Linked DNA regions of Homo sapiens. The protein of the gene in region 3 purifies or fractionates together with the protein of the main gene of each other region. This does not show direct contact. Each region holds a gene or a part of one and is shown on either strand. Other genes may lie near its edges.

Region 1 (3,649 bases), on a different chromosome or scaffold from region 3:
CCCCTTTCTCCTTCTCTCAGCCTCATGTCCAGTCCCTCCAAAGTTCTTTGGCTCTGCCTTTTAATGAGTCCAGAAAACCACCCACTGCTCCCCGCCACCTCCACCTGGGTCTCAGCCACCAGAGTCTGTTTCCTGGCCTCTTGTAATGAGCTCCCAACTTCCACTTCATCCCCTACAGACCCACCCTTCTTCATCCAGCAGCCAGAATTTTTTTTTTTTTTTCCGAGATGGAGTCTTGCTCTGTCACTCAGGCTGGAAGGCAGTGGCGGGATCTCGGCTCACTGCAACCTCTGTCTCCTGGGTTCAAGCAATTCTCCTGCCTCAGCCTCCTAAGTAGTTGGGATTACAGGTGCCTGCTACCATGCCCAGCTAAATTTTGTGTATTTTTAGTAGAGACGCGGTTTCACCATGTTGGTCAGGTTGGTTTCGAACTCCTGACCTCAAGTGATATGCCCACCTCAGCCTCCCAAAGTGCTGGGATTACAGGCATGAGCCACTGCCCCTGGCCCAGAATGGCCTTTTTTAAACAGTTCAAGTTACCGTCCAGTTCCAAATCCTCCAGGAGCCTCCCATTGCCTTCAGAATGAAATCCTAAGTCCTCTGCCTAAAATGCCCTCTGTAGAACTGGGCACAGTGGCTCACACCTGTAATCCCAGTGCTTTGGGAAGCCGAGACAGGAGGATGGCTTGAGCCTAGGAGTTTCAGATCAGCCTGGGCAACATGGTGAGACCCGTGTCTCTACAAAAAAAAAAAAAAAAAAAACCCGAAAACTTCACCGGGCGTGGTGATGTGTGCCTGTAGTTCCAGCTACTGAGGAGGCTGGGGCTGAAGAGGCTGGGGTGGGAGGATCAGTTGAGCCTAGGAAGTCGAGGCTGTAGTGAGCTATGATTGCACCGCTGTACTCCAGCCCGGGCACCAGAGCAAGACTCTGTCTCTAAATAAATAAATGAAATAAAATGCCCTCCACCATCTGACTCTCAGTTCACTCTGCGACTTCATCTCCACTTCTGCTCAATCATTTGGTGCTCGTCACGCCAGCCTCCTTCTTGTTTCTTGAACACCCCAAGCACGATCCTACCTCACGCCTTTGCACTGGTGGCCCCCTCTGCTTTGCCTCAGGTCCCCTGAGCCCTCCCTCACTTCATCTAAGGTTCTGTTCAAATGTCACCTCTTCAGAGAGGCCTCCCAGACCACTCTCTAGGAAACTGCAGACTCTCCACCCGCAGACATATACCTGACCCTCCCATCTTCCCTTCCGCTTGAGTTTTCCCCAGGACACTTACGACCACAAATCTGTGATTATTTGATCAATTATATGATTGATCTCCTCAACTGGACTAAAAGTCCTTGAGCTCTGAGTCGAGTCTGTTCTGTTCACTGTTCCCAGTGCCTAGGCCAGAGCCTGGCACACAGCAGGAACTCATAAATGCTTCTTTTGTGAATGAATGAATGAATGAATGAGTGAATGACCGGAGTGCGTGGGTGACTGCACTACACTCTTTTTTTTTTTCTTATACTTTAACTTCTGGGGTACATGTGCACTATGTGCAGGTTTGATACATAGGTATACATGTGCCATTTTGGTTTGCTGCACCCATCAACTCGTCATTTACATTAGGTCTTTTTTTTTTTTTTTTTTTTTGAGACGGAGTCTCGCTCTGTCACCCAAGCTGGAGTGCAGTGGTGGGATCTCGGCTCACTGCAAGCTCCGCCTCCCGGGTTCACGCTATTCTCCTGCCTCAGCCTCCCGAGTAGCTGGGACTACAAGCGCCTGCCACCACGCCCGGCTAATTTTTTGTATTTTTTTTAGTAGAGACAGGGTTTCACCGTGTTAGCCAGGATGGTCTTGATCTCCTGACCTCGTGATCCGCCTGCCTCAGCCTCCCAAAGTGCTGGGATTACAGACGTGAGTCACCGCGCCCGGCCCACTCTTTTATTATTATTATTATTATTATTATTATACTTTAAGTTCTAGGGTACACATGCACAACGTGCAGGTTTGATACATAGGTATACATGTGCCATGTTGGTTTGCTGCACCCATCAACTTGTCGTTTACATTAGTTTTTTTTTTTTTGAGACAGGGTTTCACTGTTGCCCAGGCTGGAGTGCAGTGGCGCGATCATAGCTCACTGCAGCCTTGACCTCCAGGGCTCAAGCGATCCTCCCACCTCAGCCTTCCGAGTAGCTGGGACCACAGGCGCATGCCACCATGCCAAGCTAATTAAAACAAAAATGTTTTGTAGAGATGGAATCTGGCTATGTTGCCCAGGCTGGGACTGCACTGTTTGACGTCTGAGCAGTCCTCTGCCTGAGCTGGGACACCAGCATGCCTACCTCCCCACCTGCCAATTCCTTGTTCCTAGTGGATGGGAATGGAACAAGGTAAACACCCCCCACACCCCTTCTTCCCAGCATCTAGGACTTGATGAAGCTGCACCTTCAAAGTCTTCCCGAGGCCACTCACAGTCACTCTGCCCTGGGTCAGACTCAAATGCAGATCGGGCGCAGGCTGGGTTTAGGGCCCTGCTATGCATTAAGATTGCAGTGGAGCCGGGCGCGGTGGCTCACGCCTATAATCCCAGCACTTTGGGAGGCCGAGGTGGGTGGATCACAAGGTCAGGGGTTCGAGACCAGCCTGACCAACATGGTGAAACCCCGTCTCTACTAAAAATACAAAAATTAGCTGGGCGTGGTGGCGGGCACCTGTAATCCCAGCTACTCAGGAGGCTGAGGCAGGAGAATTGCTTGAACCTGGGAGGCAGAGCTTGCAGTGAGCCAAGATCATGCCACTGCACTCCAGCCTGGGTCACAAAGCAAGATTCCATCTGAAAAAAAAAAAAAAGATTGCAGTGGAACTGGGGCTTGGGAGCTGTTAGGGTTTTCACCTCCCTCAGCAATGAGGTTTTGAGGCGAGGAGAAAACCAGGGCCGGCAGGGTGCAGTGGTTCATGCCTGTAATGCCAGCACTTTGTGAGACTAAGGCGGGTGGATCACTTGAGGTCAGGAGTTCGAGACCAGCCAGGCCAACATGGCAAAATCCCGTCTCTACTAAAAATACAAAAGTTATCCGGGCAAGGTGGTGGGCACCTGTAATCCCAGCTGCTCAGGAGGCTGAGACACAAGAATCACTTGAACCCGGAAAGCAGAGGTTGCAGTGAGCTGAGATCATGTCACTGCACTCCAGCCCGGGTGACAGAGGAAGACTCCATCTCAAAAAAAAGAAGAAGAAGAAGAAGGTCGGGCGAGGTGGCTCATGCCTGTAATCCCAGCAATTTGGGAGGCCGAGGCAGGTGGATCACTTGAGGTCAGGAGTTTGAGACCAGCCCGGTCAACATGGTGAAACACTGTCTCTACTAAAAAAAAAAAAAAAAAATACAAAAATTAGCCAGGCGTGGTGGCATGTGCCTGCAATCCCAGCACTTTGGGAGGCCAAGGCAGGTGGATCACTTGAAGTCAGGAGTTCAAGACCAGCCTAGTCAACATGGTGAAACTCCATCTCTACTGAAAAAAAAAAAAAAAAAACAAAAATTAACCGGGCATGGTGGCACGTGCCTGTAATCCCAGCACTTTGGGAGGCTGAGGTAGGTGGATCAATTGAGGTCAGGAGTTCGTAACCATCCTGGCCAACATGGTGAAACCCCATCTCT
Region 2 (3,649 bases), on a different chromosome or scaffold from region 3:
TCTTTTATTTTTTGTCTTCTTCTACCTCAACACTTATCTTCCTCTCCCAGTCTCCGGTACCCTATCACCAAGGTTGTCATTAACCTTTCATATTATTCCTCATTATCCATGTATTCATTTGCAAATAAGCGTATATTAACAAAATCACAGGTTTATGGAGATATAATTCACATACCTTAAAATTCAGGCTTTTAAAGTGTACCTTTCATGTGGTTTTTGGTATATTCACAAAGTTATGCATTGATCACCACCATCTGATTCCATAACATGTTCAATACCTCAAAAAGAAGTCTGTACTCATTAGTAGTCATTTCACATTCACCACTCCCTCTGGCTCTGGGCAGTCACTGATCTTTGTGTCTCTATGGATTTGCCTAGTCTAGGTATTTTTATGTAAATGGCATCATACAACATGTGACCTTTTGTTTGGCTTTTTTCATTTAGCAAAATGTTATCAAGGTCTGTCCCTGTTGTAGCATGTATTAGCACTTCATTTCTTATATGCTGAATGATATACTTTATTTGTCCATCAGTTGTTCATGCTTTATTTGTCCATCAGTTGATGAACATTTGCGTTTTTGCCACTTTGGGCTATTAAGAATAATGCTACTGTGAACAAGTGTGTACAAGTTCCTCTACAAATTTTTGTGTGGACATATCCTTTCAGTTCTCTCAGGTGTATATCTGGGAATTGAATTGCTGGGTCGTGTAGTAGCTATGTTAAACACTTTGAGAAACTGCTATAATGTTCTCCAGAGCTGTACCATTTTAAATTCTGTGTATGAGGATTCCACGTTCTCCACTTCCTCACCAGTGTATGGATTTGGGGGTATACTTTTTAAAAAGTGGGATTAGGCTGGGCACAGTGGCTCACACCTGTAATCCCAACACTTCAGGAAGCTGAGGTGGGAGGATCACTTGAGCCTAGTAGTTTGAGACCAGCCTGGGCAACATAGGGAGACCCTGTCTCTACAAAAAATAATTTAAAATAAATTAGCTGGGCGTTGTGGCACACACCTGTAGTCCCAGCTACATGGGAGGCTGAGGTGGAAGGATTCCCTGAGCCCAGAAGTTTGAGGTTGCAGTGAGCCATGATGGCAGCACTATACTGTAGCCTGGGTGTCAGAGCAAGACTCCGTTTCAGGGAAGAAAAAAAAAAGTGGGATGATATTTTTGACACTTTTCTTCTTGTTTTCTTAATTTCATACTTCTGGAAATTCCATTAAATTAGCTGGTACCACTCTAACTCATTGTGTTTCATGGCTGCATAGTAATATTGCATAATATAAATATACCATTCATTCATCAAAGTTAGCAGATATTGACTGTTAGGTGCCAGGCACTGCTCTAAGCGTTAAAGAAAAACACACAAAAACTTTTGCATTCTTAGAGTTTATTTTCCAATGGAGGGGGTGGAGGGAGGTAAGAATTTAGGAAATAAATTAATTACATATATAGCATAGGGTTTCACCAGTGAGTGCAGCTTGAATCGTTGGCAGCTTTCTTAGTAGTATAAATACAGTACTAAAGATGAAATTACTCTAAATGGTGTTACTTAAATTACTGGAATAGGTATTACTATTAGTCACTTTGCAGGTGAAAGTGGAAACACCATCGTAAAATGTAAAATAGGAAACAGCTGGTTAATGTGGATCTGGAGTTTTTCTAGGACATAAACTGATGAGCCAGAAAAGTAAATGTGTCAGTCCTTGGTAGCACAGTTTGTACGTTTATAAATTTTATCCAAATCCTCTTAATCTAGTGATTAATAGACACTCTTCACAAAAGGATGAGGGAGGTATATGTATATGTGTTGAAAGGTTCCGAAGGATGCAACCGAGAGTACTTCGGGGGACGTGGCAAAACTTCCAGGCCCATTCAAGAGTCTTGTTTTCTCCCTGAGCTTTTATGTATTTATTATATTGCCCTATTAATTATTGAGATTGTGCCTTACAGTAAAAGCTGCTTTAAATTGTTGACGCTATAATTTAAAATAATCTGGGTCACCTAGAGTGGTTAAACCTGGAAGAAAAGGATATCCTTCCTGCCAGGGCAGATTGTATGTAGATATGCAACCTGGTTGCGCCTGTGCTGACCTCTACTCTGTTGGGCCTGGAAGTATGCAGTTCAACGTTTCTCTTCTGATTTTTAAAAAAAATTTGACTTTGTTTACTTTTTATTTTATTTTAATTTAGAGACAAGGTTTCACTATTTTGCACAGGCTGGTCTCAAATTCCTGGGCTCAAGTGATCCCCTTGCCTCGGCCTCCCAAATACTGGGATTACAGGCATGAGCCACTGCACCTGGCCTTAACTTTGAAATGAAGTTAGAAATGTACATTTTATTTTTTTAATTATTATTATTATTATTTATTATTTTAGAAACAGGTCTAGCTCTGTTGCCCAGGTTGTAGGGCAACAATGGTGCAATCACAGCTCACTGCAGCCTCCACCTCCTGGGCTCAAGTGATTTTCATGCCTCAGCCTTCCGAGTAGCTGGGATTACAGGCATGTGCCACCATGCCCGGCTAATTTTTTGTATTTTTAGTAGAGACCAGGTTTCACCATGTTGCTCAGGCTGGTCTTCTGACCTCAAGTGATCTGCCCGCCTCAGCCTCCCAAAGTGCTGGGATTATAGGCGTGAGACACCACGCCCAGGTGAACAGAATAGTTTTCCATTCACCACAGTTTGTGACAGTCTCTACATTGTGAAGTGACAAGTTCTCTTCTATTTTCCTTCTGCCCCTCATCACCTTTTTCTTCCTCATTTCTTTTTTGAATTTTGCTGTCTTGAATTGATGTCTAAAGGATGACATAGCAGACAAGGGGACTGACACATGAACTCTCATGAGTTACTGAGGAGTTTCTCAGTGCTCTGTCTGCATCATCTGCTCACTCTCTCCTTCCTAGGTGCTAGCCTGCCAACCTGCTTTGAGAAATTGGAAATGAATTGGGGGGTAATCAGCCTCCCCTTGTACATGTAGGGACCGCATCTCCAATGCCTTGCTTTACATAATGACGAATGGTGTTTTGCTTACCTACTTCCACACAAACTGCTGATATGGTTAGGATTTGGGAAAGGGGAAGAAGGGAATTTTGGGTTTTGAGGAGTAGCTGGGGCTTGAACAAAGAAGAGGTAGTAATGAACATTCCTGGGGTGAGGCAATTAGTTAGCTGAGGGAGAAGAAGGCATATAATAAATTAGGGATTGACAGACTGTCTGTAAAGGGCCAGACAGTAAATGTTTTAGTCATTGAAGACCTTAAGGTCTCTGTTGCATCTAATCAACTCCATCATTGTAGTGCAAAAGTAACCACAGCCACTACAGATGTGAATGAATGTGACTATGTTTCAATAACATTTTTTTTTTTTTTTTTTTTGAGACAGTGTCACTCTGTTGCTCAGGCTGGAGGGCAGCAGTATGACCACAGCTTATTACAGCCCTGACTTCCCAGGCTCAAGTGATCCTCCCACCTCAGCCTTCCAGGTAGCTGGGACTATAGGCATTTGCCACCGCCCCCCATTAGTTTTTGTATTTTTTTGTAGAGGCGGCGTTTCACCATGTTGGCCAGGCTGGTCTTGAACTCCTGAACTTCTGGGCTCACGCTCTCCACCCTACTCGGCCACCGAAAGTGTTGGGATTACAGGCA
Region 3 (4,210 bases):
TATGGGCAGAACCGTCCTAGCAGAATAAGGGAGAGCAAGAGGCAAGGAGATGGGACAGAGGACAGGACCAGTCCTAAAGCCAGTCAGAGTGAAGGAAAGCACTGCCTCGCCCTGGGATACATCCTGAGGGGGCCCACGTGCCTACCTGGGGATGGGCAGCTGGAACAGCAGAACTGGGGCCACTCCCGGCACCTCATCACACAGGGTCCGCTCCCTGCTCTTCCCTTGCACCAGCTCCCTGGGCATGCATCTTCATTTCCTGACCAGCTGCTGGACCTCATGCCCCTGAATATTCCTTCCAAGTGGGCCACACAGCCTACGGAAGCATTCAGAGTCAGCAAACAAGGGAGGAAGTTGCCAGGAGCCTGTGTGCCAAGGACCGAGGCAAGAACTCCTCCTAAGAGGAAAGCGCTTGGGAAAGAGACCATGATTTGTGACAAAGACTGGGAGTGCTGGATCAGGGGAGGGGGAAGCTGAGCCCCTCTCAGTGCACCTTGGGTCCTAAGGAGAGAGAAGGGAGACAAAGGCTGCATTCACCATTTCACTAAAAGTCTGCCACTGAGCAGCCCTTCTTTTCTTTCTCCGTCTTTCCCTTTCTCCACACCCCACCCCCTCCACCTTTAACCTCTAATTCAATATGCCCCACCCAAATCCAGAATCTTTTCCCAAACCACTTCCTCTCCCCCATCTTCCTCACTCTTGACCAAGAAGCCTCCCTTTTCCATCATCCAAGCTCAATATCTTGCAGTTGCCTTTGACCTCCTCCATCTTTCCTGTCCTGAGTTTCTTGCCTGGGTTCCCCTCTTTCCAGTCAGCCCCTCCAGCACCCCCCCACACTCTAGTCCAGAACCTCAAAGCAGGTGATCATCAGCTGCAGTTACTCGCTCTACCAGCCCCACACCTCCCAGCGCCTGGGGAGGTTGTTAGCACAGGGTCGGGTTTTTTGTAAGGTTTTTTGGCTGTTTTCGAAGGCAGATTGTGGTATCTCATTCCTGATTAAGTTGCTTGAATTCCCACCCAAACCTCCCTTGCCAAGGTCAGGATAGCTCTACAGGAAGGGAACAGGCATGGCCCTTCTCCCCAGGCCCCAGCCAGGCCCTAAGCCACTCCTCAGCCAGGCAAGACTTTAGACTCATTTCCTGCCCCGTGAGCACTTAGAATAAACTTCCTCCTTCCTTGTGAGATTGTTTAACAGGGCAGGGAGAGTTGATGGCAAACTTCCTCAAAGGAGGGGCAGAGCCTGCGCAGGGCAGGAGCAGCTGGCCCACTGGCGGCCCGCAACACTCCGTCTCACCCTCTGGGCCCACTGCATCTAGAGGAGGGCCGTCTGTGAGGCCACTACCCCTCCAGCAACTGGGAGGTGGGACTGTCAGAAGCTGGCCCAGGGTGGTGGTCAGCTGGGTCAGGGACCTACGGCACCTGCTGGACCACCTCGCCTTCTCCATCGAAGCAGGGAAGTGGGAGCCTCGAGCCCTCGGGTACGTCCCCCCAAGAATGGAAAGGGCTATGGTTCCAGGTACACATGATTGACAGAGGGGAAAATGGAGGTGGGGAGGGTGGGAAATAGGAGTGAAAGAGCCTGAGACAGAATGATGAAAGGAAAGAAAGAAGGAAACCACATAATCGAAGAGATTCCTGAGATCAGACTCAGGAAGGCAAATAGATTTCATCTGAGGCACCAGGCCTGATCAATGAAATTAGACTGTGATAAAAAGGATTCTGGGGCTGGGTTCGGGCTCAGGCAAAAGCATGCTATGATTGATTAGCTATGTCTGCCATGGGCACAAGAAGGAGCTGTAGGGCATGCCAGCTAGGGATTTGATAACCCACACTGCAGGGTTTTTTCCTTAACCACAGGGGCCCCTCAACATTTATTCTTTCATTCACTCATCTATTGATTCAAAAAAACACATTCCAATGATCAACAGTGAGCCACACAAATATTTGAAAAATGAATAAAAAAGAAAGGAATGTTGTTCTTTGGCCCCAAATCTCATTTTTCTCATAAGGTAATGATCTGAAAAGTTATGACAAAGGTGCATGGACTTGAGAGATTTTCTAGCTATGTAATATTGAGCTAGTCCCTTTCACTAAGACTCAGTTTCCTCATCTGTAAAATGGGAGAGAGAGTCTGAATATCCCCCATCAATCGCTGAAGTTCTCATTGTCTACGCAACTATGATAATCATCACTGAAGTACATAAAATAACATGTATGATGTGCTAAGTGCTCTCCATATAATAACACATTTAATCTTCCTATCACCTCTACAAGGAAAGCACCATGATTATTCCCACTCTGCAGACGGAGAGCCAAGGCAGTGAGAGATTTAATAACTTCCCCAGGCAATCTGGCTGCAAAGCTTTTGCTCCTGCCCACTATGCCACACTGACTCTACACTGCAGTGGATTCTGAGTCCATGGCTGGAAGTGGGCTGCCTGGGTACAAGAGTGTCCTTCTAGATGATTCATCCAGTGAGCATTAATTGGGTCAGGTAAAAAAGACACAATGATTAACAAGATGAGGTATCATACATGGTTCTAACCAGAAAGGGAAAACTTGCACAGATAGTCATTTTCAAAACAGTTTGACATACACCATGGAGATAGCCTGGGAGTCAGGGCAGACTTCTCCCAAGAGAATGCCGGGTCCTTCAGGAGTGAAGGGCAGGGGAGGAAAAGATTGGGTCAGTGGAGAATCTCTGAGAAGGGGGAACAGGAGGAAAGAAAGAGGAGGGCAGAGCAGCTCAAGCAGGAAAGGGGTAGTAGCTGGTGGTGGAAGGTGAAGTCAGTGAGGTTGTTGCGCCCAGGTCTGCACAGGCTAGGGAGGAGTTTGCCATTGCTCAGCATCTGCCCAAATCTGTGCATCTGCCTGTCTGCCCTTGGGCACCTGGAGGTTTAGGGGCTTCTGTCTTATGGCCATGGTGTGCACACCTCTTCCTGAGCTCAACTCCATCTTTACACACAGACCCTGCTGCTTCCCATAGGAATGTTGAAGCCTCCAGAACCCAGGGGCCTAACTTCCTCATTGGCACTTCCCTGCGGTGGGGGATGCTCGAAGTCATCATTTGCCAACATTTCCTGGTGCTGGGGCAGCTGCTCCCCCTTGGAGGAGACCTACCTGTCTACTACTGGCAGTCCTGGTGAGACTTCAAGTGGGCAGCCGACAAGCCTGCCTGGGGGACTGGCAGCCCCCACCCAGCCTGCAGTCCCAGAGGGCAGGTGCCCTGGAGCGGAGCAGACATTTCCTACAGTTGGTGCCAATCCCTTGCTTCTGGAGGCTCAGAGGTTTGCTCCCCCAAGGGTGTGGCCTGGGGAGACAAAGACATAGAGGTTGTGGGGAGAGCAACCCTGCCTTTGGCATTTGAATCCCAGTTCTGCCCTTTTTCCAACCATGTGACCTTAGGCAAGTTGCCTATCTTATTGGCTTGTCTGACCCTCCCTTATCTCAAAAGAATGAGGACGGTAATAAGTTCTTTGGGATTTGACAGTGTGCATTTTGAAAAAGACAATGTGTGCAAAGCATCTACCATGATGCTTGCCACGTAGTAGGTGCACAATATAGGACAGTGCTGTTGTCCAAGCTGTGCACCTTCTATGCACCAGGCAGTCTGCATGGAACTGGGCATTCAGAAATGATTAGACACTGTCTCAGGAAGTTCACAGCCTATCAGATAAATTAGTCACATCAATGATTGAGAGTAAAAGGAGTCAGGGACTGCACTGTACAAGAGATGTGAACAAGTTCTACGTAATCAGTACAAACAGCAGTCCCAAAACTGGGCAACGCATATGGAGGGTTGACTGTGTCTATAGAATGGTGCCAAGTACTGTACATGGATTAGCTGGTTTAAATACAATAACTTTGCATGGGAGGTCTTATCATCCCCATTTTGCAGTGAACTACTGAGGCCTAAGGAGGTGAGGTAACCTGCCCAAGGTGGCAAGGCTATGAACGGTAGAGAGAAGCTTTATGGCCAGGCAGTCCAGCTCCAGGATCCATGCTGTTGGCCACCACACTCCTCTCCCTCCGACATGCACACACATCGCAGAGGGAATGATCTAGGCCTGCACAGGCTGCAGAAGGGGGACCTCACAAAGGAGGCCACATTCCACAAAGTATGGAATTCCTCTGGCGAGGACAGGTGAGGGCAGCCCTGGTGGAGAAATCCCTGTGAGCAGAGGCATGGAGCTGGGAGCTGGGAGCTGGG

The links.
Region 1: the proteins of FAM3D (region 3) and CNN1 purify together in Homo sapiens (affinity purification with mass spectrometry; one large-scale study listed by BioGRID and IntAct). This does not show direct contact.
Region 2: the proteins of FAM3D (region 3) and SPECC1L purify together in Homo sapiens (affinity purification with mass spectrometry; one large-scale study listed by BioGRID and IntAct). This does not show direct contact.

Annotation. Positions count from the first base shown.
Region 1 is NC_000019.10:11,541,776-11,545,424, reverse strand, and holds part of CNN1 (calponin-1), read right to left. Parts: intron 1-3,649. UniProt on the Homo sapiens protein: Thin filament-associated protein that is implicated in the regulation and modulation of smooth muscle contraction. It is capable of binding to actin, calmodulin and tropomyosin. The interaction of calponin with actin inhibits the actomyosin Mg-ATPase activity.
Region 2 is NC_000022.11:24,277,219-24,280,867, forward strand, and holds part of SPECC1L (cytospin-A), read left to right. Parts: intron 1-3,649. UniProt on the Homo sapiens protein: Involved in cytokinesis and spindle organization. May play a role in actin cytoskeleton organization and microtubule stabilization and hence required for proper cell adhesion and migration.
Region 3 is NC_000003.12:58,663,844-58,668,053, reverse strand, and holds the start of FAM3D (protein FAM3D precursor), read left to right. Parts: upstream 1-1,279; 5' UTR 1,280-1,478; exon of another isoform or gene 1,479-1,516; intron 1,517-3,120; exon of another isoform or gene 3,121-3,421; intron 3,422-4,210.